4 linked regions of the Homo sapiens genome follow. The protein of the gene in region 2 purifies or fractionates together with the protein of the main gene of each other region. This does not show direct contact. Each region holds a gene or a part of one and is shown on either strand. Other genes may lie near its edges.

Region 1 (8,084 bases), on a different chromosome or scaffold from region 2:
ATTCTGAATAGCTTCCACTGCTTCTTTCAGTTTTTGCCAGGTTTCATCTGTGTAGTTTTCTGGTAATTTAGGCTTATCTAGATGATATGTAAAAGGTTGGCATCAGAATACCATGTCAGATACAGTAACCAAAGATTCATAAAATATAATAGCATTACTAATTTTAGGGTAAATTGTGATCTTTATAACTATTACACCTAATCATTAAAGTAACCACTGTATTTAAGCTTAATATAAAGAATAAAATTTGAAATGCCATAATACTGTTTAAGTCATTTTGACTCACCTATTAAAATTGAAGGTGAGGTTTTTCTCCTATTGATTGTATTGCTTCAAAAAAATAAAAATTCAAGAATGACCATAAAAAATAACAATCCTGATCTTATTTCATCATGTGTAAAACCTAAGTCGACATGAATTTTTAACCTGAGATTTAAAGTACTGTCTATGTGCAAGGTACTTTATAAGCCTCTTAATCTTCCCAACAATACCCTGAGGAATCTATTTTACAACCGAGGAAACTGAGGCTGGAACTCATTTAGTAAGCTTGCCCAAGGTCATCATAGCTAGTCAATGGCAAAGCTGGGATTCTAATTCAGGTCTGTTTGACCCCCACATTTATGCAGCATCTATAGAAATGGAAACATCTTAACTCAGGTTTTAAACTACATTTACGAGCAGAGTGAAATTTTTAAAGACTGAAAGAAATGACTCCAGAAACCATGTTGCATTTTCAGAATAGAAAGAAACATCTTACTCTAGGCTTTAAACTTCACTGACTAGCAATGAGTGTGGGGAAAAAAGTTTTAATTAGAATATCCAAATGCCTTAATAATATGCTTTTATTTTAGGAGGGAGAGAAAAAAATCTCTGAAACCAATTTGAAAATGCAACCAGGATCATAACTCATTTAAAAATCTTTAGCTACAAAATCCATATATTTTTAAGTGAAATAATGAAAACGTTACTCAATTACAATTCATATTGACTTCAGAAAGCTCTACTATTAAATCAGAAACTGAGAGCCTGGGTATGGGAAGGTAGTGATATAAAAAAGAAAGGGTTAAAAATAGACAACACCATAGCCCTCTGCTTGAGACAAAATAGAGCATACTCCTGATTTCCACACAATGTTAAAAACACAAGCATAGAGAACCTAATCTTCTCAATACTAATATTCAGCCACAAAGCACTTATCTCATAAATATTACTTAAGTTCATTCATTTACTTCTCTATTTAATAAACACTGTAGCACTGATTACCTGGCAGTTACGGGTGTTGAAAAAGTAAGTCAGAAAAACAGAAACACATTCAACAAATAAAAATTAATTCAGCTCAAATACATTTTTAAAAATTGCTGATTTTATATTTGCCTCAATGTATTCATAATACTCTCCTCACATATCTCAAACACGGTCTGAACAAATTTTCCTAAAAGCTGCAGGTCGATACTTTAAAATCCATTTTAGTGATGGAAAAAATAGATGTAGTAATTGTTCCTATCTTTAGACTAGTGGTACACAGAGTTACTACTTCTGTGTATACACAATGTTTTTCACTTTCAAACCCTACCTTTGGAAAGAAATGCAGAGAACATAAATTTTTCTTCAAATATTCCTTCCAAATGAGTTTCATGAATACAGTATAAATCTAATTATAAATCTTATTTGAGCATAAAAAGATCACTATTGCTACCTGCATTTCTAGGCATTGGATAATGTGGCCTACTGAAGCATAAAAATAAAAATCCCAGCAATGCCAAGGCTCGCTATGCACCTGAAATAAATAAACCTCTTTAGAATACAAATTTCTCACCTGCAAAATCCGGATCAATCATACCGATTGTCAGTGTTATAAGGAATAACAGATTAAATACAATAGGTTGAAAAAGACCTCAAAATACTGCACAGAAACACCCGGTGTATGCTTCAGCACAAGGATCCTAACCACCCCCGGAAAATGAACCCTCCACCAAAAAAGGACCTCCCCTCCACCTCATTGATTATGCATAAAACATTAGGCCACCTCCAAACTGTTTAATATATTAACATAAATAGAGCACGTGACCCCTCGAGTGTCAAATCCTTATTAGGTGATTATGGATTTTGGCCTTGGTTACCTTTAAAGTTCTTGATCACTAACTTCTTAGCAGAGCCAGGTTTGCTGTTAGCAAAGCTAGAGACGGTGGTAGAAGATTTGGCTAGGCCGTTTGCATGATGCACCGAAGCCACAGAAGAGATTAATATACTCTTATTTTTAAGTTGCTGCTGCTGAGATGTTGCAGCAGTTGGTGAAGATGAGGAGGAGGAGGAGGAGGATTCCTCAGCCATCTTCGCATCAAACCCTACAAACTCCAGGGTGTCTTCAAAACGCAGCTTCTTCTGTATCGGTACGTGGCTGGAAGCAGCCACTGAAACCCCCAGGCAGAAGGACGAGGTTGAAGGGGATGCCGAATCCCTGGGTTGTAAAGGAGGAGTGGAAGAGGAGGAAGAGGTGGAATCAAAGTCTTCTCTCTCGTTACTACTGTTACTGCTGCTACTGCTGCTGCTGTTTAACTTTCTCTTCTTGGCAGAGGTGGGCGGAGTGGTGCTGGTATTACCATCAGTGGCAGATCTGACCTCCTGAGCAGCAGCAGCAGCTGAGGGACTGGGGGAAGAAAAACCTGTTGGAAACATGAAAATAGCGGGGTCAACAGGCAGAGGAGCATCAAAAACCTACGTTTATATGCCTGCGTGCGTGTAGGAGAGAAGGTAGCAATGCTAGAGGGGGAAGGGAAGAAAGAAGAGAGGAGAAACACAGAGGACGAGAAGGAAAGTGAAGGGGGGGGCTACACCGGGGGAATGGGAGGGTTTGGGAAGGCGGATAGGCTGACACCAGGAGTGAGCAGAACGAGGGGGGAGAGCGAATGAGGAGGCAGACAGGTAAACGGCCGTGCCGTCCCCCTCCCCTGCTTTTCGATCTCTCTCCCCCCCTTTCTGCAGGAGCGACTCAGCGAGTCTGTGAGGCTGCAGCTCCTCCTCCTTTTCTCCCTCTCCCTGGGAGGGGAGAGGCTGTGGTTGGGGGAAAGGGGGAGGGGGAAAGAACCAGGGCTTGTTATTGTCAATAGCACAAGAGGCTAAAGATGGCGCCATTTCCGGTCACGCGGCGCCGAGGGAGGGGCGGTGTCAACCTCAGGGAGTGGGGGTGAGGGAAGCGCTGCAGCCGCCCGGGGGGCGGGGGAGCTCGCGCGTGAGGGGGCGGCTGGAAAGGGGCGGCTAAAGTGCCCCAGACGCTCGCGCTAGTTCGCTCCTGCTCCCGCTCCCCTTCGCGATCCCCTTTCCTGGCAGCGCCTTCCTTCCCTGGCCCACCGGGAACTCCCACTCCCTCCTTAACGGTCCCGCGGGAAGCTTCGCGCCGCAGCGCCCTTACCGGAAGTGACTGGGCAGACACTTTTCATAGCGCCCAGATCCCGAAGCCCCCAGGTCCGCAGGACTTGAGTGGGGGGGGGAAGGGGGGAGGGAGAAATTGGGGGGAAGAAAAGTGGATAGGAGGAGGGGGCGGGCCTTCGAGACACCTTCGGAGCTCCTGATTGGAGCTTTCTGAAGGCGAGGGGGTGGGGGGGGTGGCGGGAGGAGCGGGAAGGAGCCTCGGGGGAGGGAAGGTAGTGACGGCGAGGGGCGGAGTGAGCTAGCTGGGAAAACGGAGGAGGAGGAAGAGGAGGAGAGAGGGAGGGACGGAATAAAACGTAAGGGTCCGGGAGAATAGAAACTTTGAAAGAGATGAAAGAATAAGGAGTGGTTGCAAGGCTAGGGGAGTAACCCTAAATAGAGGAAAACATAATCATGCCATTATGCCCGCTGCTGGAGAGGAATGTCCCTATGTTAAGATAGGAAAGGAGAAGAAAACGAGCTAAGATAGGAAGAAAAGGACTTTTTAATTCGGTGCCGGTATAAATTGTTTCTCTTTTATCTCAAGGCACCACAGACCCAAGGCTGAATAAGGCCTGAATTTTGATGCCTTTCTCTTTCATGTAGCTGTAAATCCTTTTATCTTACTACCAGGAGCATTTTCTAAGCTGGCTGGCCAAATTAAGTGTGTATTCTAAGGCGAAGAAATGGAAAGGTAACTAACCCCTCACCCACCCAGCACTATGCCCAGGATCGTCCTAACCCCCACTCTATCAGTCCTTAACTCAGTAATTTATAGACCCAACAAAGCTAAGACCCACTTCCTTCTTTTGCCAAATCTCAGTTTACACGCTGTCCCAAAGGAGACATTTTAGAACCATATCGGCAAAAGTCAGTGTTTTCTACTAATGTGTTTCATGACCCCATGCTTTACAATTGATTATTGATTTAAAAAATCTTTAAGTTTGGTTAAATTAGCAACAATAAACCTTGTAAATTCCCTGTTGGGAGTTTTTACTTAACCTTGGGGCATTCTCAGAGGGAGGTAACACAATATCAAAAACTAAATTTGCCAACCTGTTGATCATTCTAACTGCAAAAGCATTCAGTTAGCATGTATGGTAAGACTATGCAAGGTCTCTGCCCTTGAGAAGCCAGTAGGGGAAGATAGTTTCAAAACTAATTTCCATAACAATAATATGACATATATACAAAGTGCTGTCAGAAGAGGCAAAACAAGAAATTTGGGAGAAATCTGGAATAGGAAGAGTTCTACAGAGATTATGTTTATGCTGTGTCTCAAAGTGGGAGTTGCCAAAAAGAGAAGAGGGAACAGGATGAAAGGCATTCTGGGGAACGGAAACAAGGGCAAAGCAAGGAGTGAAAGGGCCAGGCCTGTTTATGGAAACATGGAAAGTGCAGTGAGGCTGGGAAGTAGGATGTCTGGCTGGGAGTAAGGAAGATGAGGCTCAAAAGTGCCTGGCACACCAAGCCAAGAATTTGGAGTCTACTCTGTAGGCGATCATAGATAGCAGGGAGACAATCCAGCAAGCAGAGCTTTTACAAACCAGGGGTGACAGGATTGTGAGTGGAGTAAAAGCAGCTTGTATGGTATACCTTGTGATAGGTGAATCAGAACCCTGCAAATAAATCAACTTTCTAACTTTGTTTAAACAGGCCCACTTGTTTTTGTGTCTTGAAAAGTCCCTGATTAAAATGCAAATCAACCTTTGGCATTATTAGACAATATCATTGCTATTTGATGACAGCCTGCTGAAAGCAAGGCTCTAATGGAACTTAGAACCGCTGAGAAGGGAGATGGGGGCCTGAAAGGAGACAGATGGAAGCACTCCTATCTGTTTTGAATATACCACATAGTTTTTTTCATTTTGTTTTGTTTTGAAGACAGAATCTTGCTGTGTCGCCCAGGCTGGACTGCAGTGGTGTAATCTTGGCTCACTGCAACCTCTGCCTCCCGGGTTCAAGCGATTCTTGTGCGTCAGCCTTCTTGAGTACCTGGGACTACAGGCATGTATCACTACGCCTGCTAATTTTTTTTGTATTTTTAGTAGAGTCAGGGTTTTGCTATGTTGGCCAGGCTGGTCTCGAACTCCTGGCCTCAAGTGATCCGCCTGCCTCAGCCTCCCAAAGTGCTGGGCCTACCATATAGTTCTTGCTGCCCAAATAGAAACAGTAAACTCTTAAGGCCAGGAAAGACACCTTAATACATTGAACTTTCCTTTATCGTGTCTCACAGTTCACAAAATGCTGAACCACTGTAAATGCAGGGTAAATGCTTATTGAATTGAGTATTTCATTGCATGTGAATAAAATAATGCTGTGTCTTTATAAGGGAGGATTAACTGACTCATTTTCAGGATTTAATGAACAAGGTTGTTCTAATTCATGTAGTTAAAATCTTTAGGAGGGTATATGAAGTGCTAGCCATTTTAAAAAATTACAAATATTAGTGCAACTGAAAGGGAATGGACATAAAGATAAGAGAAAGCTGCTTTTGCCATACAAAGATAAACTTTTCTACTAACCTAAATGATAGCTGAGTCCTGTTAATATTTAACTACATTCTAGTAATAATAGTTCCCTATCTCACATGGTTATCTAAGCCCTTCAGTCTTCTGAGTTACATGTTGGTTTTAAAAAGCACAGATCTGGCCACGCGTGGTGGCTCATGCCTGTAATCCCAGCACTTTGGGAGGCCAACATGGGTGGATCACATGAGACCAGGAGTTCCAGACCAGCCTGGCCAATATAGTGAAACCCCGTTTCCACTAAAAATACAAAAATGAGCCGGACATGGTGGTGTTCACCTGTAATCCCAGCTACTCAAATGGCTGAGGCAAAAGAATCCCTTGAACCTGAGGCAGAGGTTGCAGTGAGCCAAGCTCACACTGCTGCACTCCAGCCTGGGTGACAGAGTGAGACCTTGTTACAAAAAACAAACAAACAAACAAAAAACAAGGCTAGGTGGCTCAGGCTTGTAATCCCAAAACTTTGGGAGGCTGAGGCGGGCCGATCACCTGAGGTCAGGGGTTCAAGACCAGCCTGGCCAACATGGTGAAACCCTATCTCTACTAAAAACACAAAAATTATCTGGGCACGTTGGCAGGTGCCTGTAATCCCAACTACTCGGGAGGATAAGGCAGAAGAATCGCTTGAACTCAGGAGGTGGAGGTTGCAGTGAGCCGAGATTGTGCCACTACACTCCTGCCTGGGCAACAGAGAAAGAGTCTGTCTCAAAAAAAAACAAAAACCTTCCAAGTTGGTTTGTAAAATATCTTTTACATCAAGAACCAACTAATTGAGGCTAGTTGAAGAACATAAGCGTATATTCTGTACACCCAAATGTTTGCCAATCAACGTTAAACACATTCTCAACATTAAAATACATTTTCAAGGTTGAACTCACGGGAGCCACACTAATCAAGATGTGTAATGTAGGACACCATACAATTATAGCCATTATCAGACTAAACCAGACTGGGCACTTAACACATATTCCATATTTAGGATCTTTCATCTTGTGAGTTCAACTCATACCTTAGAAACATTAATTAAACTTTACAATGTTGCCACATGAAGTGTAGTTATTATTGGCCACCTTTAACCAAGCTGTTTATAAAGGTAAGTATATGTGTAAAGGAAGAAATACAAACAAAGACAGGGAGCTAGCTTTTACAATGTCAATTCCTTTATTTCTGTGGACATCTCCCTAAAAAGGCAGAGTGTAACCCATTTCCCCTTTTTGATCACAGGGATTCCCCAGGGTGCTTGGGGAATCAAGATGTGTAATGTAGGACGCCATACAGTTATAGCCATCTGGGGTGCTTTAGGTCCTCTCCAGATATCTCATACCAGTGGCTTGCCACTAGACAGACACTCCTGGAAGCCTTCCTATCCAATGGGTGGGATTTTCCTTAGGAATGGGAGAGACTGCTTGCCCAGGAGAATCTGAAGATGTTTCTGAGAATGCATTAAAAAAACACAAACAACAACAAAAAGCAAAAACCAAAACAAAACAAAACAGAAAAAACGGCTGGGCACAGTGGTTCACACCTGTAATCCCAGCACTTTGGGAGGCCAGAGTGGGTGGATCACTTGGCCAGGAGTTTGAGACCAGCCTGGGCAACATGGCGATACCCTGTCTCTACTAAAAATACAAAAATTAGCCAGGCCTGGTGGTGCACATCTGTGGTCCCAGCTACTTGGGAGGCTGAAGTAGGAGAATTGTTTGAACCCGGGAGGCAGAGGTTGCAGTGAGCCGAGATTGCACCACTGCACTCCAGCCTAGGTGACAGAGTGCAAAAAAAAAAAAAAAAAAAAAAAAACTGCTAGGTAAAGGGCAGTCCATTTACTTTTTTTTTTTTTTTTTGTCTGAGACAGTGTCTCGCTCTGTCACCCAGGCTGGAGTGCAGCGGCGCCATCTCAGCTCACTGCAAGCTCCGCCTCCCGGGTTCATGCCATTCTCCTGCCTCAGCCTCCCAAGTAGCTGGGACTACAGGCGCCTACCACCACGCCCAGCTAATTTTTTTTTGTATTTTTAGTAGAGATGAGGTTTCACTATGTTAGCCAGGATGGTCTTGATCTCCTGACCTCATGATCCGCCCGCCTCGGCCTCCCAAAGTGCTGGAATTATAGGCGTGAGCCACCGCGCCCGGCCCAGGCAGTCCATTTTCTTC
Region 2 (7,138 bases):
TTTTTTAGGGGCTCAGTAACCCTGACATGCAATAAAAAGAAATAAGACTTGGCCCAGGGAAAAACTTGGTTTTTTCTCTAGTTCTGAAATACCAAGATCAGGTACCTTCCTTCCCACTCCTCAACACATGCCCTGCACTCAAGCCATCTCAGCCACACTCGTCCCCCACACCACACTTGGAAGCAGTCATTCCCCCTATGCCCTTCTGTTGTTCATGCACCCCGGGGGTTACCGCTCCTCCCCAGGTTGCCCCTCTGATCCTGCCTGGAGAGTTGAGCACCTGGTCCATACAAACTGCCCTGACTGCTGCAGCCCACACTGATCTGCCACCCTTCAATCTGTACTTGCCTGGCAGTGCCTCTCCCTCTTCGATGGCCTCCCACACCACTGCATCTCCTTTGTGTTTCAGATGCACACACCTCACTCCTCCAATAAGACTGCTGACAAATCTAAGTCCTCTACAGTCGTTACCACTTTGAGGCAAAATGTAAACATCCTGCAGAGGAAAAGAGGGCTTCTTGGGCAAGTGTCTCTAAGCCTAGGAAATGAGCCTTTTATCCTCCACAAAGGCCTGGCCTGGGCTGGGGCAGGGCCATGGCCCTCACACTGGGATCCATTACAGAGACACTTTGCTCAAGTCAGCTTTACCACTGCATTTACAACACACAACTCACAAACGAGACTTCTGAAGCACTGACAGACTCTCCTAGTGGAAGGGGATCTTAAAATTCAACTAGCTTCTTCCAGTAGCTGGGCAGTTGTAACCGCAGACAGCTCCTTCTAGGACTCCAAATTGGCCACCCAGGTAGGTCAACCAATTAAACCCATTCTGGTCTCGTAGACTTTCTTAAGAATTCCAATTCCTCTTCCACAGTCACCCTTCAACTGACAACAAATATCATCACCACAGACTTGTCTTCTTTTACCTAAATTTGGTAGAGTTCCTTATGACTTTCTTCCTCCAGTGGCCTGGCTTACAGGCTCCTCAAAACATGAACCTCAGAAATTTTCAAGTAAGATTGCACTGCTAGCAAAAATGCAGCCTAGCTCCATCAGAGACCTTAAATATTTAGGCAAAAGGAGAAAGAGCTTTCTGGGGCAGGAAACCTTCCTTCAGTTGAGGGGCAAAGCAAAGGCAGACGAGAGGAAACACAGTGCACAACTGGAAAAGTGCTACAAAGAAAAAGAGAACTGGGTGATGGAGAGTCCCTTTCCAAGAGGTACCAGGAAGCATACTTTTGGTGCATTGTATAAATCTCAAGATTGTCACTAACTCCTAGGAGATTTTCTACATAATGGAAAACAGAGCTTACTTTGTCCAGTTACACTTTACGACCTCCATGACTGGAACACAGCCTACTTTGTAAATGTAGCAATAGTTATAAATTAACATTCCACCTAACATCAGACATAGGCACATCCAAATATAAAGAAAAATGAGGCCGGGCGCGGTGGCTCAGGCCTGTAATCTCAGCACTTTGGGAGACCGAGGCAGGCGGATCACTTGAGGTCCGGAGGTGGAGAACAACCTGGCCAACATTGCGAAACCCCGTCTCTACTAAAAATACAAAAATTAGCTGGGCGTGGTGGCGGGCACCTGTAATCCCAGCTACTCAGGAGGCTGAAGCATGAGAATTGCTTGAACCCAGGAGGCGGAGGTTGCAGTAGTGAGCCAAGATCATGCCACTGCACTCCAGCCTAGGCAACAGAGTGAATTTCCATCTCAAAAAAGAAAAAAAGAAAAGTAGGTTGGGCATGGTGGCTCACGCCTGTAATCCCAACAAAGAGGGAGCCAGAGGTGGGAGGATAGCTTGAGGTTAGGCGCTCAAGACCAGCCTGAATAATACAGCAAAACCCAGTTCTCCCTAAAAAAAAAAAAAAAAAGAAAAGAAAAAAAATCAGCCAGGTGTGGTAGCATACACCTGTAGTCCTATAGTCCTAGCAACTTGGGAGGCCGAGGTGGAAAGACTGCTTGAGCCCAGGAGGTTGAGGGTGCAGCGAGCTGTGTTTGCACCACTGCACTCCATGCACTCCAGCCTGGGTGACAGAGACTCTGTCTCAAAAAGAAAATACTTTCCAAAATCAAATTTAAATGTGAAAGTGCTTTGTAATGCTCTAAGTATTACCTCCCCACCACAGTGCTTCCTCAGAAATAATGAAACAGCTCATAATGGTCCCCCAGGTATGCTGGAACTAGGAACTAATATGGGTTATTTCCACAAAAGCCTAAATGGAGAGAATATTCTTCGGCAGTCTGTGATAGGGCTGACTTCATTAAGAAGGAGGGCTCTTAAAGCTACAACTCACCAGAAGAAAGCTGTTGTTATAAGATTCAGGAGGGGGACATCACGTTTTTCCCTCTGAAAACAAGCAATCTAATTTAAGGACAAATAAAGAAAAGATCACCAATCAGTTGACAAAATTGGCTTTTAAAAGTTAGGCCAAGGGTAACAGAGGCATAAATACAAACAGAATACGACAGAATCACCCTGATTCTTTGTAGATTTCTTTTCCTTTCAAGTCAGTAGCTATTTGGTGAGTATCTTCTGTGTGCCTCAAGTAGGTGGCAAGCAGCCTTCAACACTTAGCAGCCAGATCATGCATTTGCTAAATGGAAAAAATGACAAGGTCCTAAGCTTTGGCCATGCTCAGGGAACAGACCATATTGGTCTGGTTCAGATTTTCTAAAAGATTATTACGTCAATGGACTGTTTTAATTGGTGGTGGAGGTGGCCTTGGCCTTTTGCTCAGATTTCTTTTTCTCAAACTTAAATCCTTACCGCCACCTGCTGGCAGCACCAGGCTCTGCTCGTGCACACACCCACCCTCTGTGTTTAAATAACCAAAATTTAAAGAGTCTACACTGTTGTGTAACTACACGGTGTGCCTCAAACTTTAGCCAAGTGTCTACAATAGCTCTGTGCACACCCGCCTTTCTTTTGTCTGATGCTATTTATAATGAAAATAAACTTGAACAGTTCAAAATTCTAAAACAAGTATCATTCATCTTTGTTAATGACCTTGATACCAAAGATTAGGTAGTGTGGTTAGCCTCCCAACCTCATTTTGTACAGAGTTTGATTTATAGGGAAGAATAAACAGAAAGGAGAAAGCGGTTAGCCCTTCCTACTTTGTTCAGACCTCAATCCCAAGTCAGAGAAAAGGCCACCATCATCAAGAGGGTTGTTGCACAGCTTATTAGAAAAGCAGCAAGCTTATTTTCCTAATTGTCTTTGCTTTGGACTAATGTTAAATATAGTTAACACTTCCTTGCCCAGGCTGGTCTCGAACTCCTGGACTCACGCAATACTTCCTCCTCGGTCTCTCAAAGTGTTGGGATTACAGGTGTGAACCACTGCACCCAGCCTCATACTTCCTTGGCTAGTCGGATTAAACATGGTCTATGAATTGAACATCCACAGAGTATATGTATATAGGGTGGTGTGTGTGTGTATTCAAAAAAATTAGCTCAAGTTCATGAAAAGCAGAGTTCAGCAGTCCACTGACACACTTTTATGGTGTGCCAGAAATATTCAGTTCAACATTTGAGTACCTACTATGGGTTAGGCATGAGACAAGACGCTCGTCTTACAAATAGGACACAGGTTTTATTTTCAAGGAGTGCATATAACAGTATAGAGAATCACTCCAAATTTCACAAATCCCCCTTTGAAAGGCACCATCTACTCATCTCTTATGCTTCTTAGCTGGAATTACGGGTCCCACTCCGCCACTCTTAGACACCTGATTTTCAAAATTCATTAAGCATCATTAATACTTCAAACTCCATTCACACTAGAAAAGAACTTCCAATGCTAAGGAAAATCAGTGCAGGGCTCCAAATAAATTGTGAAGTGAGGTCACTTCATGTGTCAGGTTACAGGTACACAAATGCCCATAACGCAAAGGCTGGGGCCTACATCTGTCCAAGAAGCTAAAAGTTTCCTCAACAACCAGGTGTCACTAAAACCACACTTACATCCTCTTTACTTCACTTGCAGCTCATCTGCCAAATTTTATCCCTTTCTTCTTTCCGTATGAAACATGTCATGCATTTTACACATTTATAATATATATGTACAGTTCACAGAGAAAGAATAAAATGAAACTATGTGCCCACCACGCAACTTAAGAAGCAGAACACTCCCAGGGCCTTGAAGCCCCACATGCCCCTGCCCAGCTGTACCCCTCCCTCCACTCCACCTGGTAACTTACCACCATCCTTCTATCCATTTTTAAGATCCATCCCCAAACTCATTTTCTTTTGCTCTATAGCTGCAAAGTACATGTGTACTGAAACTACAACATTCTCTGTTCTCCAAGCCTGATTGATCACCCTATGCTGACCAGGAATCAGAAAAAAGAGACAGAACACCAAGAGCAGGAGCCGTGTCACACTCATCCCTGTAACCCAGCACCTAGCCCAGGCCCACTTGTTGGTGACTGCTTGTTTCATCTACACCAAGATTCGCAAAACAAAAACATAAACACTGCAAACGAATAAACAGGTATGCCTGGAGAGAGAAACAAATGTTCCTTTCCTTCCTTACCTCTGCTTCTACCTGCTGCTGAGTTCGGTTGTGGTTCTCTTTGTACTGGTTGGCTCTCAGAACTTGCTGCTCGATGCCCAGTAGAACTGCTTCACAGCCATCACACCTACAATGGAGAAAACCAGCCCTGAGCTGCAGAATGGCCTGGGAAGTCTCTTCCAGGCTCAGAAATATTCTTCCCCAACAGCTCTCCCCAGTATCTTACAGGGACCTCCTTTAATACTCCCTCTGCCACATCTCTTGCCCGTTCACTCCTTCCCAAAGACAAGCACTTCTAAATACATAATGCAGGACATTAGGAGACAAATATGGTAGTCTGGGGCTAGTTTCTTAGAATACAGCTTTAATTTTCAACTTTGTATCTCATGGAAGATGGTTTTGTAGCACATACGATTAAAGAAGGTAGGACAGGCCGGGTGCAGTGGCTCCCACCTGTAATCCCAGCTCTTTGAGAGGCCGAGGTGGGTGGATCACCAGGTCAGGAGTTCGAGACCAGCCTGGCCAACACAGTGAAACCCCATCTCTACTAAAAATACAAAAATTAGCCAGGTGTGGTGGCGGGTGCCTGTAATCCCAGCTACTTGGGAGGCTGAGGCAGGAGAATCACTTGAACCCGGGAGGCGGAGGTTGCAGTGAGCTGAGACCACGCAATTGCACTCCAGCCTGGGTGACAGAGCGAAACTCTGCCGCAAAAAAAAAAAAAAAAAAAAGAAGGTAGAATAGATTTTATAGATGGCACTGAGTAATCCTTTTCTCAACAGAAAAAAAAGATGTTCTAGGCCAGGCGCAGTGGCTCATGCCTGTAATCCCAGCACCTTGGGAGGCCGAGGCAGGCGGATCACCTGAGGTCGGGAATTCGAGACCAGCCTGACCAACATGGAGAAACCCCGTCTCTACTACAAATACAAAATTAGCCAGGCCTGGTGGCACACGCCTGTAATCCCAGCTACTAGGGAGGCTGAGGCAGGAGAATCGCTTGAACCTGGGAGGCAGAGGTTGCGGTGAGCTGAGATCGCACTATTGCACTCCAGCCTGGGCAACAAGAGCAAAACTGTCTCAAAAAACAACAAACAAAAAAAGATTTCCTAAAAGCATCCTGTTTTGAAGATTCCGCCTTTTCTCAGAAGTTTAAGTTACTTCCTAATTGCCATACCCCTCCTCCTATTTTCCCCACTATTAATTTTTTTAAAAATGAAAAAGTTGAAAGACTACAATGAATATCCCCATACCCTCCACTTAAGATCCAACAGTGTGAGCATTTTGCCATATATGTGGTAGCCCTCAGCCTATGAATTTTGTTTCAATCTACCTCCAGTGCCTAAACATGAGTTGTAAGAGTTTCTACTAGTAAACATCCCATGGTAACCAGTTAGTCTGGCACCTCTATGTCAAACATATTGGGGGCTTAAAAACAGGAAACCAGACTATGGACATAAAAAGCTGTGTCAGCCATCTCAAAAACAGAATAGGACAGCCAACTTTGGCAGGTTCAGAAACTAGATTTTGTGTGCCAGACCATTTTTGTGTTGGGGTATTTCTAAGTTTATTTCTTATTTATTCTAAGTTTTGTAAGCTATTGAAAACTTCCACTTGTGGCAGATGTTGTATAGAGAAGGTGTTTGGGGCTATATTTGGGACAGAACTTGGGGTGAGGGGTGAGCAACACATGTCCTGGGGTGTAAAAGTAGCTGAAGTGAGGGAAACTCAGGGGACATCAGGCCCCAAGGAGTCAAAGTGGCACTGCTCCTCTCTGGATATGCTTCTCTCGGGGATGAGCAGAGATTCTCTCTCCCTCCCGAACCTGTGTACAAAGCTCACCGGGTCTGCTTCATGGCTTCCAACATGCCACGTGCCTGCCTGGGAACACACTCTCCTCACCTCCAGGTATACTCTAACCCTGGCCTTCCTTCAAAACTGAGCTAAAACTTCTCCAATCAGTCCATCTGGCTTTATAAGCCCCAAATAATTTAAATCACTCCACAGTGAATCCTCGTAGAATGTGAGACAGCTCTTACAAATATCAAATTCCATTAAAACAGAGAAAACACAAATGTCCCAATGCTTTTTATATACCAGAGTATAGTTATCAGATATTCTTTGTATGAGTCTGTATTCCAAGTTAAAATGACCCACTCCTTGTCTTCCATGTCCCTCACGGTGTTTTACAAACATTAGCCCAATATGTTACTGATTTTGAACGTAAGTTCTTTTATCCGAAGAATCTTATAAACATGTTAACTTCAACAGGGATAGAAAAAATAATAAAAACAAAGAAAGAATCTTACAAACACTAGCCTTCCTGAGTTTGGTCAAACTTTGAGCGTGAGTTTGGAAAGGGCAGGACTAGCCTCACACAGCTAGGACACATAGGCTCCACCTGCTAACCCTGGGCATTTTATAGCCCACTTTTAAATAGCTCCCAGTTGCATTTAAGGAAAGAACTATTTTACAACCAAGGCACCAGGAGGCCTGAAATGACTCCTGTTATCACACAGCTGTGATCACAAATGTAGCTCCACTCTCCGGCTCACTAAGCCCCAGCTCCCAGGTAGCTACAGGCCCACCCCAAACCCTCAGCTGACACCAGG
Region 3 (7,138 bases), on a different chromosome or scaffold from region 2:
TTATTCCTAGATGACATAATCCTGTATACAGAAAATCCTAAAGAATCCACATAAAAATTATTAGAATAAATGAATTCAGCAAAGTTGCAAGGTACAAGAGCAACACACAAAAATCAGTTGTACTGCTATACACTAGCCAAAAAACAATATGAAAGTAAATGAAGAGAACAATTTCATTTACAATAGCACCAAAAATAATAAAATAATTAGAAACAAATTTAATTTAAAAGGCACAAGGCCGGGAAGGGTGGCTCACACCTGTTAATCCCAGAACTTTAGGAGGCCAAGGTGGGTGGATTGCTTGAGCTCAGGAATTCAAGTCCAGCTGGGGCAACATGGCAAAACCTAGTCTTTACAAAAAAGGCAAAAAATTAGCCAGGCATGGTGTGCACCTGTACCAGGTATGCACCTGTACTCCCAGCTACTCGGTAGGCTGAGGTGGGAGAATCACCTGAGCCCAGTAAGTTGAGGCTGCAGTGAACCAAGATCGCACCACTGCACTCTAGCATTGAAGACATAGCGGGACCCTGTCTCAACAACAACAAAAAAGGCACAAACACAAGACTTGTATGCTGAAAACTACAAAACATTGCTGGAGTCAATTCATGATGACCTAAATTTTAAATAACCTAAATAAACAAAAAGACATTCTGTGTTCATGGATTAGAAGGGTTAGTATCAAGATGGTAATACATTCCAACGTGGTCTACAAATAAAATGCAATCGCTATCAAAATCCCAATGACAAACCAGGCATGGTGGCTCACGCCTGTAATCCCAGCACTTTGGGAGGCCAAGATGGGTGGATCACCTGAGTTCAAGAGTTCAACACCAGCCTGGCCAACATGGTGAAACCCCATCTCTACTAAAAATACAAAACATTAGCTGACCATGGTGGCAGACGCCTGTAATCCCGGCTATCTGGGAGAATGAGGCAAGAGAACCACTTGAACCCAAGAGGCAGAGGTTGCAGTAAGCCGAGATCGTGCCACTGCACTCCAGCCTGGGAGCAACAGAGAGAGACTCTGTCTCAAAAAACAACAACAACAAAAACAACCCAATGACATCTTTTGCAGAAATGGACATGCTGATTCTAAAATTCGTATGTAATTGCAAGGAAACCTGAATAGGCACAACAATCTTGGAAAAAAAAAAAAAAAAAACAAAGTCGGGGTCAGGCGCAGTGGCTCACACCTGTAATCCCAGCACTTTGGGAGGTCGAGGCAGGTGGATCACAAGGTCAAGAGATCGAGACCATTCTGGCCAATATGGTGAAACCCCATCCCCAGTAAAAATACAAAAATTAGCTGGGCGTGTTGGCACGCACCTGTAATCCCAGCTACTGGGACAGCTGAGGCAGGAGAACCGCTTGAACCTAGGAGACGGAGGCTGCAGTGAGCCAAGATTGCGCCACTGCACTCCAGCAAGGCAACAGAGCGAGACTATGTCTCCAAAAAAAAAAAAAAAAGTTGGAAAAATCACACTTCTGATTTCAAAACTTGCTACAAAACTATAGTAAATGGAACAGCATGGCACTGACATAAGGATCAACACAGAGACAAATACAATAGAATTGATAATCCAGCAATAAGCACTCACATCTATGATCAATTTTCAACAAGGGTACCAAGACCATTCAATAGGAAAAAAGTAATTTCAATAAGTAGTGCTGCCCAGGTGCAGTGGCTCATGCCTGTAATCCCTGCACTTTGGGAGGCCAAGACAGGCAGATAACTTGAGCAGGAGTTCGAGACCAGACTGGCCAACATTGTGAAACCCCATCTCTACTAAAATACAAAAATTAGCCAGGCATGGTGGCGCGCCTGTAACCCCAGCTACTCAGGGGGGCTGAGGCAGGAGAACTGCTTGAATCCAGGAGGCGGAGGTTGCAGTGAGCTGAGACAGCGCCACTGCCCTCCAGCCTGGGCGACAGAGCAAGACTCCATCTCAAAAAACAAACAAACAAAAAAGTACTGATGAGACTTGGCACAGTGGCTCACGCCTGTTATCCCAGCACTGTGGGAGGCCGAGGTGGGCAGATCACGAGGTCAGGAGATCAAGACCATCCTAGCCAACATGGTGAAACCCCATCTCTACTAAAATACAAGAAATTGGCCAGGTGTGGTGGCACACACTGGTAGTCCCAGCTACTCGGGGGGGCTGAGGGAGGGGAATCGCTTGAACCTGCGGGAGGCGGAAGTTGCAGTGAGCCGAGACTGCACCACTGCACTCTAGCCTGGTGACAGAGCAAGACCCGTCTCAAAAAAAAAAAAAAAGTAGTGAGACAATTGGATATTATCCCACAAAACAGCGAAGTTGGATCTTTGCCTCACAGTATATGCGAAAATGGGCCGAGTGCTGTGGCTCATGCCTATAATCCCAATACTTTAGGCAGATCATCTGAGGTCAGGAGTTTGAGACGAGTATGGCCAACAAGTTGAAACCCCATCTCTACTAAAAATACAAAAAAGAGCTGGGCATGGTGGCAGGTACCTGTAATCCCAGCTACTCGGGAGGTTGAGGCAGGAGAATCACTTGAACTCGGAGGGGACGGAGGTTGCAGTCAGCCGAGATTACCCCAATGCACACCGGCCTGGGCAAAAGGAGTGAGACTTTGTCTTAAAAACAAAAAAAAGGCCAAGAAACGCATGAAAGATACTCAACATCAGTCACTAGGAACTGCAAATCAAAACCATAATGAGATATCATTTCTCACCTACTAACATGACTGTAGTTTAAGAAATGAGAAAATATAAGCATTAGCAAGCATGTGAAGAAACTGGAACACATATTGCTTGTAGAAATGTAAAAGGGTGGCCCCGGGCGCGGTGGCTCATGCTTGCAATCTCAGCACTTTGGGAGGCCGAGGCAGGCGGATCGCGAGGTCAGGAGACAGAGACCATCCTGGCTAACATGGTGAAACCCCATCTCTACTAAAAATACAAAAAATTAGCTGGGCGTGGTGGCAGGCACCAGTAGTCCCACCTACTCGGGAGACTGAGGCAGGAGAATGGCGTGAACCCGGGAGGTGGAGCTTGCAGTGAGCCGAGATCGCGCCACTGCACTCCATCCTGGGTGACAGAGCAAGACTCCCTCTCAAAAAAATAAATAAATAAATAAAAGAAATGTAAAAGGGTATAGTAGTTATAAAAAACAGTTTGGGACTCTCTCAAAAAGTTGCAGGTTTTTTTTTTTAAGTCACATGTAGAATTACTATACGACCCAGCAATTTCACTACTAGATATATACCCAAAAGAACTGAAAACAAGGCTGGGTGTGGTGGCTCACACCTCTAATCCCAGCACTTTGGGAGGCCAAGGCGGGCAGATCTCCTGAGGTCGGGAGTTTAAGACCAGCCTGACCAACATGGAGAAACCCCATCTCTACTAAAAATACAAAATTAACCAGGCATGGTGGCACATGCCTGTAATCCTAGCTACTGGGGAGGCTGAGGCAGGAGAACCGCTTGAACTCAGAAGGCAGAGGTTGAAGTGAGCCAAGATTACGCCATTGCACTCCAGCCTGGGCAATGAGCGCAAAACTCCATCTCAGGGGAAAAAAAAAAGGAATTCAAACAAAGACTTATACACAAATGTTCTTGGTAGCATTATTCACAATAGCCAAAAAGTAGAAACAACCCAAAAGTCCATCATCAGATGAAGAGATAAACAAAATGTGGTATATGCATACAATGGAATATTCAGTCATAGAAATGAATGAAGTAGTAACATGCTACAGATGTGGAAAAACCTTGAAAACAATAAGAAAGCAGACACAAAAGGGCACATATTGTATGATTCTATTTATATAAAACATTGAAGGCTGGGCATGGTGGCTCACACCTGTAACCCCAGCACTTTGGGAGGCCAAGGCGGGTGGATCATGAGGTCAACAGTTCGAGACCAGCCTGGCCAACATGGTGAAACCCCCGTCTCTACTGAAAGTACAAAAATTAGCCGGGCGTGGTGGCATGCGCCTGTAGTCCTAGCTACTCAGGAGGCTGAGGCAGAAGCATCGCTTGAACCTGGGAGGCGGAGGTTGCAGTGAGCCAAGATTGCGCCACTGCACTCCAGCCTGGGCGACAGAGCGAGATTCCGTCTCAAAAAAAAAAAAAAAGTTGAAATAGGTAAATCAATATACAGAAAGCTAACTAGTAGTTGCCAAGGACTTGAGGAAAGGGGAAAATGGGCAGTGACTGCTAAATGGGTATGAGGTTTCCTTTTTTTTTTTTTTTTGAGATGGAGTCTCACTCTGTCGCCCAGAGACTGGAGTGCAGTGGCAGGATCTCGGCTCACTGCAAGCTCCGCCTCCCGGGTTCATGCCATTCTCCTGCTTCAGCCTCCCGAGTAGCTGGGACTACAGGCACCGGCCACCACACCCGGCTACTTTTTTGTATTTGTAGTACAGACGGGGTTTCACCGTGTTACCCAGGATGGTCTCAATCTCCTGACCTCGTGATCCACCCGCCTCAGCCTCCCAAAGTGCTGGGATTACAGGTGTGAGCCACCGCGCCCGGCCGAGGTTTCCTTTTAAGGTGATAAAAATATTCTAGAACTAGAAAGAGATAATGGTTGCACAACACTGTGAATCTACAAACGCCACTGATTTGTACACTTCAAAATGGGTAGTCGTTAATTTTATGCTACGTAAATTTACCACAATTTTTTAATGAGAAAAGAAATGATCCAGAAGAGACTGCTTCTTAGATAACTTAAGCAGTTAGCCTACTAGAGCACATAAAGACATGATTTTTTAAAAAACACTACCTCTAATAAAGATTAATTCAAGGGCATTAAAACACTAAAATTTTATATTTTTAAAATTTTTTAATTTTTATTATTTTGTAGAGACAGGGTCTCACTATGTTACCCAGGCTGGTCTCAAATTGCTGGGCTCAAGCAATCCTCTCCACTTGGCCTTCCAAAGTGCTAGGATTGTAGACATGAGCCACCATGCCTGGCCTAAAACACTAAAATTTTAGAGTTCAACTTAGAAACATATACATATATACTTCTGGTATCATTTTCAGAACTTCCAACTAATCTATGCCTGAAGATAATTATAACTTTGGGAATAACCATTTGCCCAAGGAAAATATAAACCTTAGTGAGACCTTGTCTCTATTATTTAAAAAAATAAAAAATAGGCCAGGCGTGGTGGCTCACGCCTGTAATCCCTGCACTTTGGGAGGCCAATGCGGGTGTATCATCTGAGGTCAGGAGCTCGAGACCAGCCTGGCCAACATGATGAAACCCTGTCTCTACTAAAAATACAAAAAATTAGCCGGACGTGGCAGCAGGCGCCTGCAATCCCAGCCACTCGGGAGGCTGAGGCAGGAGAATCGCTTGAACCCGGGAGGCAGAAGTTGCAGTGAGCCGAGATTGCACCACTGCACTCCAGCCTGGGCGACAAGAGCAAAACTCCATCTCAAAAAAAATATTAAGAATAATAAAGAATAAAAAAATATAAAGGCAAGGCGTGGTGGCTCACACTTGTAATCCCAGCACTTTGGAAGGCTGAGGTAGGAGGATCACTTGAGCCCAGGGGTTTGAGACCAGCCTGGGTAACAGTAAGACCTTGTCTTTATTATTTAAATACATAAATAAAGGAAAATATAAACTTGTAACAGACTAAATAAAGGAAAATATAAACTTGTAACAGACTTAACTAATAATAGCAATGTGAATTAACATAGTATCAATGAAAGCAGTCAGCAACTGAGTGTGGTGGCTCACACCTGTAATCCCAGCACTTTGGAAAACCTAGGTGGGCAGATCGCTTGAGCCCAGGAGTTTGAGACCAGCCTGGACAACATGGTGAAATCCTGCCTCTATGAAAAAAATTTAAAAATCAGTAGTAGTAGTACTTACTTCAATGTTCGTTTTTTTGTGTTTGTTTTTTGTTTTGTGAGACGGAATCTCGCTCTGCTGCCCAGGCGGGAGTGCAGGGACACAATCTTGGCTCACTGCAACCTGTAGTCCCAGCTACCTGGGGAGGCTGAAGCAAGAGAACTGCTTGAGCCTAGGAGGTGGAGGCTGCAGTGAGCCATAACTGCACCACTGTACTCCAGCCAGAGCAAAAGTGCGAGACCTTGTCTCAAGGAAAAAAAAAAAAGGCCGGGCACAGTGGCTCACACCTGTAATCTCAGCACTTTAGGAGGCCAAGGCAGGCAGATCACCTGAGGTTGGGAGTTCGAGACCAGCCTGACTAATATGGAGAAACCCTGTCTCTACTAAAAATACAAAATTAGGCCGGGCGCAGTGGCTCACGCCTGTAATCCCAGCACCTTGGGAGGCCGAGGCCGGCAGATCACAAGGTCAGGAGTTCGAGACCACCTGGCCAACATGGTGAAACCGCATCTCTACTAAAAATACCAACAAAATTAGCCAGGCATGGTGGCACACGCCTGTAATCCCAGCTGCTCCGGAGGCTGAGGCAGCAGAATCGCTTGAACCCAGGAGACAGAGGTTGCAGTGAGCCGAGATCGCGCCACTGCACTCCAGCTTGCACAACAAGAGCAAAGAAAACAGTCATCTTCACCTTGTTATGCCCAAGACAATAAGGGTGCATTACTCAAGTTCTTAAGTGAGTTCCTTTAAGTGCTATGAAGAAATGATGGTCTGTCCAATGGTGACACGGTAGTTACCAATTAGTGAATATCTAGTATGGGACAGACATTGAGCTAAGTAATTTACCATACTTACATTATTCTGAATTTTCACAACCATCCTACCCTTTTTCACACATGAGGAAACTAGCTCAGAGAGGTCCCCAAGACCAGCTAGTACTAGGTAGAAAAAAGGTTTCAAGGATTCAAATCCCAACTCTGCTGACATACCTGTGAAGTCTTGGTTATTTAACTTCTCCAAATCTCAATTTCCTTATCTGCAAGATGGAAACAGTTGTTGTGCGGGGTTAAATGACAATATTGTCCCCATGATGGGATAATATAAAGCCTCAAGAAATACTTATGTAAAATTTTCTTATCCTAACAAGCATCTGCTAGGGTATTTAGGGATGACAGGCCTGCAACTTATTTTCAAATGATTCCACAAAATATATATATAGATACCACACACACAAATAGAGAAAATATGGCATAATATTAACAACTGTTTGCCAGGCACTATGGCTCATGC
Region 4 (7,138 bases), on a different chromosome or scaffold from region 2:
CCTGATTGTTTGCAGTGGCAACAGGAGACTTGCTCCAGCTGGTGGGAGGAAGGGGCAGTGAACCTGATGGTGCTTTTGGAGCTTCCCAGGGCCCTGAGGACGGCACCTCACCTCTGCAGGGAAGGGGGCAAATGTGGGCTGATGGACAGTGGCACTTCCACCAGACTCTTAAGTGTTCGACTATTTAGTGCATCTCAACTTTATTCCCTTGATGGAATGGGAGGCTCAAACTGCACAACATGGAATCTGGGGACTTTCCCTCCAAAGCACGTGTGGCCGGTCCTGTCCCTGAGAGGCCAGGCGTCATCAGAGTTCAGTATTTCCTGGGTTGATAAATACATGTAAAAAACGTTTCATAATACTTTCCCGGCTTATCCTGCATCCCACACGTGGCAGGACAGTAAATCTCAGTTCTGAAAACAACGCGGGTTGACAGGCCTGGGCTGACTTTCATAAGCAACAGCAACAGTAGACTATTACCGTGGTGGAAAACGCGGTGTAGGCTGTAAACGCTGAGTAAGTTAGTTATTGTTATCATTTCCTTAAAATCTTGTGATGTAACCTTGACCGCTACTACTATGAGAAAAGTGTTCAGCTTTCCATGTCCCATCTACCTCTTCCCTTCCTGAAAATATGAACAAGCGCGCACCATCCCTGGGAAGGAGAGTTTTAGGGCTCTATCATTTCTGCAGTGGCAATGAGCAACACCTGGAATAAAGAGCTTCACATTTGCCAGTTTTTCTACATTCAGTGTATACACAAAGCACCATGAATAATGCAGGTCAAATGATATGACTGAACATAGAATTAAACATGCTTTGTCAATTGTTTAGCAAATACTACAAATTTAATTATGCTAATGTTACATTTACCTTTACTGGAAATTTCAGCTGATTATATAATTCAGAAACTAGAAGATTATGACCAAGAGTCTTTCTCATCTTCATTATTCTGACGATAGCAGCATCAATCTGATATTGTCTATCCTGAAACACTCTCTCAGTGGTGCTAACCTGTTCCTCAACCTGTATAAAAAAGAAAAAAAAAGTTAAGTGTAAAACTGTATTTTCTTTTTATTTTTTGCGATGGAGTCTCACTCAGTTGCCTGGGCTAGAGTGCAATGGTGTGATCTCGGCTCACTGCAACCTCCGCCTCCCAGGATCAAGCGATTCTCTTGCCTCAGCCTCCCGAGTAGCTGGGATCACAGGCACCTGCTGTCATGCCCGGCTACTTTTTGTATTTTTGTACAGGCAGGGTTTCACTATGTTGGCCAGGCTGGTTTTGAACTCCTGACCTCAGATGATCCGCCCACCTTGGCCTCCCAAAGTGCTGGGATTACAGGTGTGAGCTACCACACCTGGCCTATATTTCAATATTAATGACCTGATGTTACCGAATTTGATGGGAAATGGTTTTTTTTTTTTTTTTGAGACGGAGTCTCACTCTGTCACCCAGGCTGGAGTGCAGTGGCGCGATCTCGGCTCACTACAAGCTCCGCCCCCCGGGTTCACGCCATTCTCCTGTCTCAGCCTCTCAAGTAGCTGGGACTACGGTGCCCCCCCACCATGCCCGGCTCATTTTTGTATTTTTAGTAGAGACAGGGTTTCACCATGTTAGCCAGGCTGGTCTCGATCTCCTGACCTCGTGATCCACCTGGCTCGGCCTCCCAAAGTGCTGGGATTACAGGCGTGAGCCACCGTGCCTGGCCGGAAATGTTCTTTTGATGCAAAGAAAGGTCAGACATTGGATGAATCCTACTTTATTATGCATGTTTACTTGTTGTAGTAAAAGGTACCTTCCCAGAATAGCAAAACTCCAAAACCAAAACTTAAAAAATATTTTTAAAAGTTATTTTCCTTATAAGAAAGCTGCAACAACTCTATGTGTGATGTAGATTAAAACTAGCAGCACAGTAAACAAAACATAATGACCATCAGGATATATTCCAGAAATGTTAAGTGTTGATCAACATTAGGAAATCTGTGAATATAAGTGAGAGCACTGTAGCAGTTGAAAGGTTAGATTACATGACCATCTTGATAGATGCTGAAAAGGCATGATAAAATTGATTTTTTGATTTAAAACAAACATTAGCATACAAGGATGAATAAAAAAGCATCTGAACATGATAAAACATGGTTATCAGAAACAAACAGCAAATACTAGAGACAACTTAACCTTAGTCCAACAGGAACCTGATGGGGATCTGCAGTTGAAATGAGGGCTGGGGGAAGGTCTGTGCATACATATGAGGCAAGTATGCTTCAGGATGGGAGAGACTCCAAGCTTTCATCACATTTTCAACAGGATCCATGACCCCCAAAAAGTTAACATCCTCTGAACTAGAGATAAAATTAGGAAGCTCAGCTGCACTGCTATTCCTTAAAAACATTACTTTAGAGGTTCTAACTATGCAATACAGGAACAGACTAAAGAGGTATATTGAAAAGGTGCAGACAAAACGATCATTATTTGTAGATGAGCTGGAAAATCCAAGAAAATCAACAGAAAAACTTTCAAAGCTAAAGAGTTTTGTAAAGTGGCTGGAAATAAAATAAATATACAAAGACAAATAGCATTAATACATACATTCTGATAAAAACCGTCAGAAATGTAAAGAAAAAAGGTCCCCTTTATAAGATATCAGCATTTCATTAGCCTGTCTTGCTTAAAACTCTAGTGGTTTTCCAAATGCTTCATGGATCTGAGCCATCTTCAGAGGGTCCAGCTGTGGCTCCCTGATCAGGCCTGTCTGGCTCAGCTTCCCCTTTTGGCAACGATGCTGCAGCCAGAGGCCTTCTTTCAGTTCCTGAGCAAAGCTAGTCACTTCTTCAGGAAAGCGTTGGCTGACGACAGTATTTAATTAGACTCTCCTGCACTTCTCTATCCTAACATTTTCCTCCACTCTTACAAGTTAGTCAATGTGTGTGATCCTCTGCTACCTCTCTGCTGGAAAAGACTGAACACTCCTAGAAACAAGGACTTATTCTTTATTGTTAATGGATGAATTCTCAGTGCTTCACAGAGGACCTGGGCCACCACAGATGCTCAATAAGTATTTGTTGAATGAATGAAAATTTATGACTAGCAAGAAATATGCAAGACTTACAGAAGAAAACTAGAAAGCTCTGAGAAAAAGATTTGTATGTATTTACATATATACACATATGTATGAATCACAAGATTTAATATGATAAAGATAAAAGCTCTGTAAATTAATGCAATATGGATTAAAAATGTCAATGTTCTTATTTGGGGGAGCAAAGGCGTGATACAATTATTGTCAAGTTCATTGGAAGAATAAAGTTATAGGAATAGCTACATTAATTAAAAGAACCTGGTGCCGGGCACGGTGGCTCACGGCTGTAATCCCAGCACTTTGGGGGGTCAAGGTAGGAAGACTGCTTGAGCCCAGGAGTTCAAGACCAGCCTGGGTAACATGGCAAGGCCTCATCTCTACAAAAAATACAAAAATTTAGCTGGGCGTGGTGGCATATGCCTGGGGCTGAGGTGGGAGGATCGCTTGAGCCCAAGAGGTTGAGGCTGCAGTGAGCTATGATCACACCACTGCACTCCAGCCTGGGCGACACTGTCTCAAAAAACAAAACAAAACAAAACAAAAAAAATGGCTGGCTATGAAATAGACACAGAATTTATAGAAGAGAATTGAGAAACTGACCTATATGAATTTGATACATAATAAGGTGATAATTCAAATAACTTGTTCAAGGATGATATTTTAAATTTGGTTTTGGAAAGGATGGGGGCAGTTAGACTGTTTTCAGATACTAAAATAATTTCTGCAACATGAAAAGAAAGATTTAAATGTAAAAACTTCTAGAAAAATAACATAGTATAAATGTTTTTTAAAACTCTGGTTAAGGGAATTTCTCTCTTAGGCCAATGATATGGTTTTGAATATGTGTCCCCTCAAAATCTCATGCTGAAATGTGGTCTCCAGTGTTGGAGATGGGACCGGGTGGGTGGGGGCAGGTCCCTCATGAATGGCTTGGGCCCTCCCCTTGGTGATGAGATCTGGTCGTTTAAACATGTGGGGCACCTCCCTCCCTGTTCTTGCTCATGCTTTTGCCACGTGAGACACCTGCTCCCCTTGCACCTTCCACCATGACTGGAAACTTCCTGAGGCCTCGTCAGAAGCTGAGGTGATGCTGGCACCATGCTTCCTGTACAGCCTGCAGAACCGTGAGCCAATTAAACTTCTCTTCTTTATAAATTACCCAGTTTCAGGTATTTCCTTATAGTAATACAAGAATGGCCTAATACAGCATTACACGTTAAGTCAGAAACCATAAAAGAAAAGGAGACTATATTTGAGAACTTAAAAACTGTTATGTGAAAAAAAAACCAATAAAAACAACAAAATTATCTGTCAAAAATGACAAAGCAGGCTGGGCATGGTGGCTCACGCCTGTAATCTCAGCATTTTGGGAGGCCGAGATGGGTGACTCACCTGAGGTCAGGAGTTTGAGACCAGCCTGGCCAACATGGTGAAACCCCGTCTCTACTAAAAATAGAAAACTTAGTTGAGTGTGGTGGCACATGCCTGTAGTCCCAGCTACTCGAGAGGCTGAGACAGGAGAATCGCTTGAACCCGGAGGACGGAGGTTGCAGTGAGCGAGATTGTACCACTGCACTCCAGCCTGGACGACAGAGTGAAATGCAAAAAAAAAAAAAAAAAAAAAAACGAAAAAAAAAAAGGGACAAAGCATTAATATCCTTAATATATAAAGAAAACCTACTAATCAGTAAGAGAAAAAACATTATAATGAATGCATATGACTTGAAAAGCAATTAGAAAAAGAAAAATACAAATGGCTAAGCATAAAAAGAGCAGCATCAACATGTATGAAGTGCTTACAGGTGTGTGGCAAAGAGCTTTCTAAACGATTCATTTAATTCTCACAACTTGAGGTAGTAGTATGTCTATTTTAAATATGAGAAACTGAGCATTAGAAAGATTATATAATTTGTATAAACTACTGAGTGGTAGAAAGATGCTGTAAAGAATCAGAAATCAAAATGAAAACTGCAACAAACTATCTTTGGGCTGCTCAGAACAGGGTGAGCGAAGGACAGGTGGAGGTGGGGGCAGACACTGTGCTCTGGTGAAATCTGCCAGACTTCAACTTGGAAAAGAGCAAACTAAGACAAGTACACATTATTTTACCCAGCAGCTCCAGAGCAAGAATCACACTAAAGAAACAATCTAACAAGTGCACAGAAATGTCTGTGCCAGGGTGTTGAACGTAATCTTATTTTCAGGAGGGGCAGTGGAGGAATGTTAGTGCCTGTGGCCGAGGGCACTGCCAGCCCTGGTGGGTCTACACAACCGGCACTGTGCTCCTGCAACAAGTCCTGGCCAGGAGAAGACTGCGATCAGCAACGAAAACTGGCTACAGGAAGGCCCTGACAGGTGCCATATGTACAGTGATCCCAGGTGTTTTTTCTTTTGTAGAGTTTGGGGTCTCACTGCATTGCTCAGGCTGGCCTCAAACTCCCGGGATCAAGCGACCCTCCCGAGTAGCTGAGACTATGGGTGCATGTCACTGTGCCTGGCTTAGTGATCCCACTAAAAAAAAAGTTTACATACACTCACACCACAGAAAAAGGCTGTGACCACAAACAAAAAGGGCAGTAGTGGTTACCTTCGGGAGAAAGAACTGATAGACCTTCTCACTTTTGCCCACTATAAAAGGTGCACCCTCAAAGGAGTTAAAAACTTAAGTCCACATAAAAACCTGCACAGAAATGTTTATAGCAGCTTTAGTCATCATCACCAAAACTTGGAAACAACCAGATGTCCTTCAGTAGGTGAAGGGATAAGTTGTGATGCATCCAGACAACGGAGAATCCTTCAGTGCAAAAAGCAGAGTTACCCAGTCATGAAAAGACACGGTGAACCTCAAATACGTTCTAATAAATAAAGAAGCCAATCTGAAAAGGCTATATACACTATGACTCCAACTGTACGGCATTCAGGAAAGGGCAAAACTATGGTGACAGTAACAGGGTCAGGGGTTGCCAGGGGCTCGGAGGGAGACAGGGATACAGCGACAGAACATAAGAGAATTTTTAGGGCAATGAAACTGTCCTGTATGATCCTATAATGGTGGATACATAACATTATACATTTACCCAGACCCACAGAATGTACAACACCAAGAGTGAACCATATCAGATTCTATTACCATAGAAAGTGTGGATAATTTTCGAAACCCTATGACCATGGGGAGTTCTGGCTTAGCACACAACTTTTTTGTGAATAGGAATAACATTAAGTGGCTTTTTTTCTGATTTTCTTTCCTACTGAGAATGTGAAGTTAATGAAAGCGACAGGAAAATGAGTACTCTTATAAACATTACATAGTGAAATTGGATTATTGTAGAAATGTGCTTCAGGCCTCTAACAGCCAAAAACATTACTACAAAAACAAATGATTCCCTGCTAAACCCCCTATAAGTAAAAAGAGAAAGTTTATACATACAGTTTCCTTCATCTGAATTTGATTGATCTTTATTCTAAACAACTTGTGCTTGAACTCTCCATTAAAAATGAACTTGTCTCCATCTTCCACTTCCTTTCCTTTGGGACTTTTAATCAGCACACGTGCTTTGCCACAGGCCAGGGACTGCAGCGTTCTGCGCAATTCACTATCCTCTGAATGGGAAGCAAATGCAGGCAAAGGCTGGCGTTAAACGAATGAGACTCAACAACAGTAAACCAATCATGCTACCAAGTCTATGTCTTATCTTAAAACAAATACATGCTTTAAGAACAACTCATGGAGCTATGCACTCTGCAGTTTTCGTACCTATCCCCGTGGCCATTTTTATCTCCTCAAAGCTGAAGCCATCTCCCTCGTTGAACATGAGGAGCACCAGTGTCTGGAAGAGGGACACCTGGAATTCCTTCTTCCCCTGGAAGAGAAGGCCTCATCACACCTCTGAAGCTGTGCATGTACAATCTTTGAAAAATTAAAAGAAGCTTCTTTTTGCTCTCAAACTTTTTTTTTTTTGAGAAGGAGTCTCGCTCTGTCACCCAGGCTGGAGTGCAGTGGCACAATCTCAGCTCACTGCAAGCCCCACCTCCCGGAATCATGCCATTCTCCTGCCTCAG

The links.
Region 1: the proteins of COPS7B (region 2) and CUL4B purify together in Homo sapiens (affinity purification with mass spectrometry; 7 studies listed by BioGRID and IntAct, with this or other methods). This does not show direct contact.
Region 3: the proteins of COPS7B (region 2) and DCAF1 purify together in Homo sapiens (affinity purification with mass spectrometry; 3 studies listed by BioGRID, with this or other methods). This does not show direct contact.
Region 4: the proteins of COPS7B (region 2) and CUL4A purify together in Homo sapiens (affinity purification with mass spectrometry; 9 studies listed by BioGRID and IntAct, with this or other methods). This does not show direct contact.

What each region holds. Positions count from the first base shown.
Region 1 is NC_000023.11:120,557,963-120,566,046, forward strand, and holds the start of CUL4B (cullin-4B), read right to left. Parts: upstream 3,001-8,084; 5' UTR 2,677-3,000; coding exon 2,121-2,676; intron 1,937-2,120; exon of another isoform or gene 1,839-1,936; coding exon of another isoform or gene 1,817-1,838; intron 78-1,816; coding exon 1-77.
Region 2 is NC_000002.12:231,796,377-231,803,514, reverse strand, and holds part of COPS7B (COP9 signalosome complex subunit 7b), read right to left. Parts: intron 4,657-7,138; coding exon 4,551-4,656; intron 2,608-4,550; coding exon of another isoform or gene 2,578-2,607; exon of another isoform or gene 2,414-2,577; intron 2,376-2,413; coding exon of another isoform or gene 2,308-2,375; intron 1-2,307. UniProt on the Homo sapiens protein: Component of the COP9 signalosome complex (CSN), a complex involved in various cellular and developmental processes.
Region 3 is NC_000003.12:51,489,897-51,497,034, forward strand, and holds part of DCAF1 (DDB1- and CUL4-associated factor 1), read right to left. Parts: intron 6,885-7,138; 5' UTR 6,838-6,884; intron 2,618-6,837; exon of another isoform or gene 2,493-2,617; intron 1-2,492. UniProt on the Homo sapiens protein: Acts both as a substrate recognition component of E3 ubiquitin-protein ligase complexes and as an atypical serine/threonine-protein kinase, playing key roles in various processes such as cell cycle, telomerase regulation and histone modification.
Region 4 is NC_000013.11:113,254,494-113,261,631, reverse strand, and holds part of CUL4A (cullin-4A), read right to left. Parts: intron 6,940-7,138; coding exon 6,834-6,939; intron 6,680-6,833; coding exon 6,507-6,679; intron 1,026-6,506; coding exon 873-1,025; intron 1-872. UniProt on the Homo sapiens protein: Core component of multiple cullin-RING-based E3 ubiquitin-protein ligase complexes which mediate the ubiquitination of target proteins. As a scaffold protein may contribute to catalysis through positioning of the substrate and the ubiquitin-conjugating enzyme.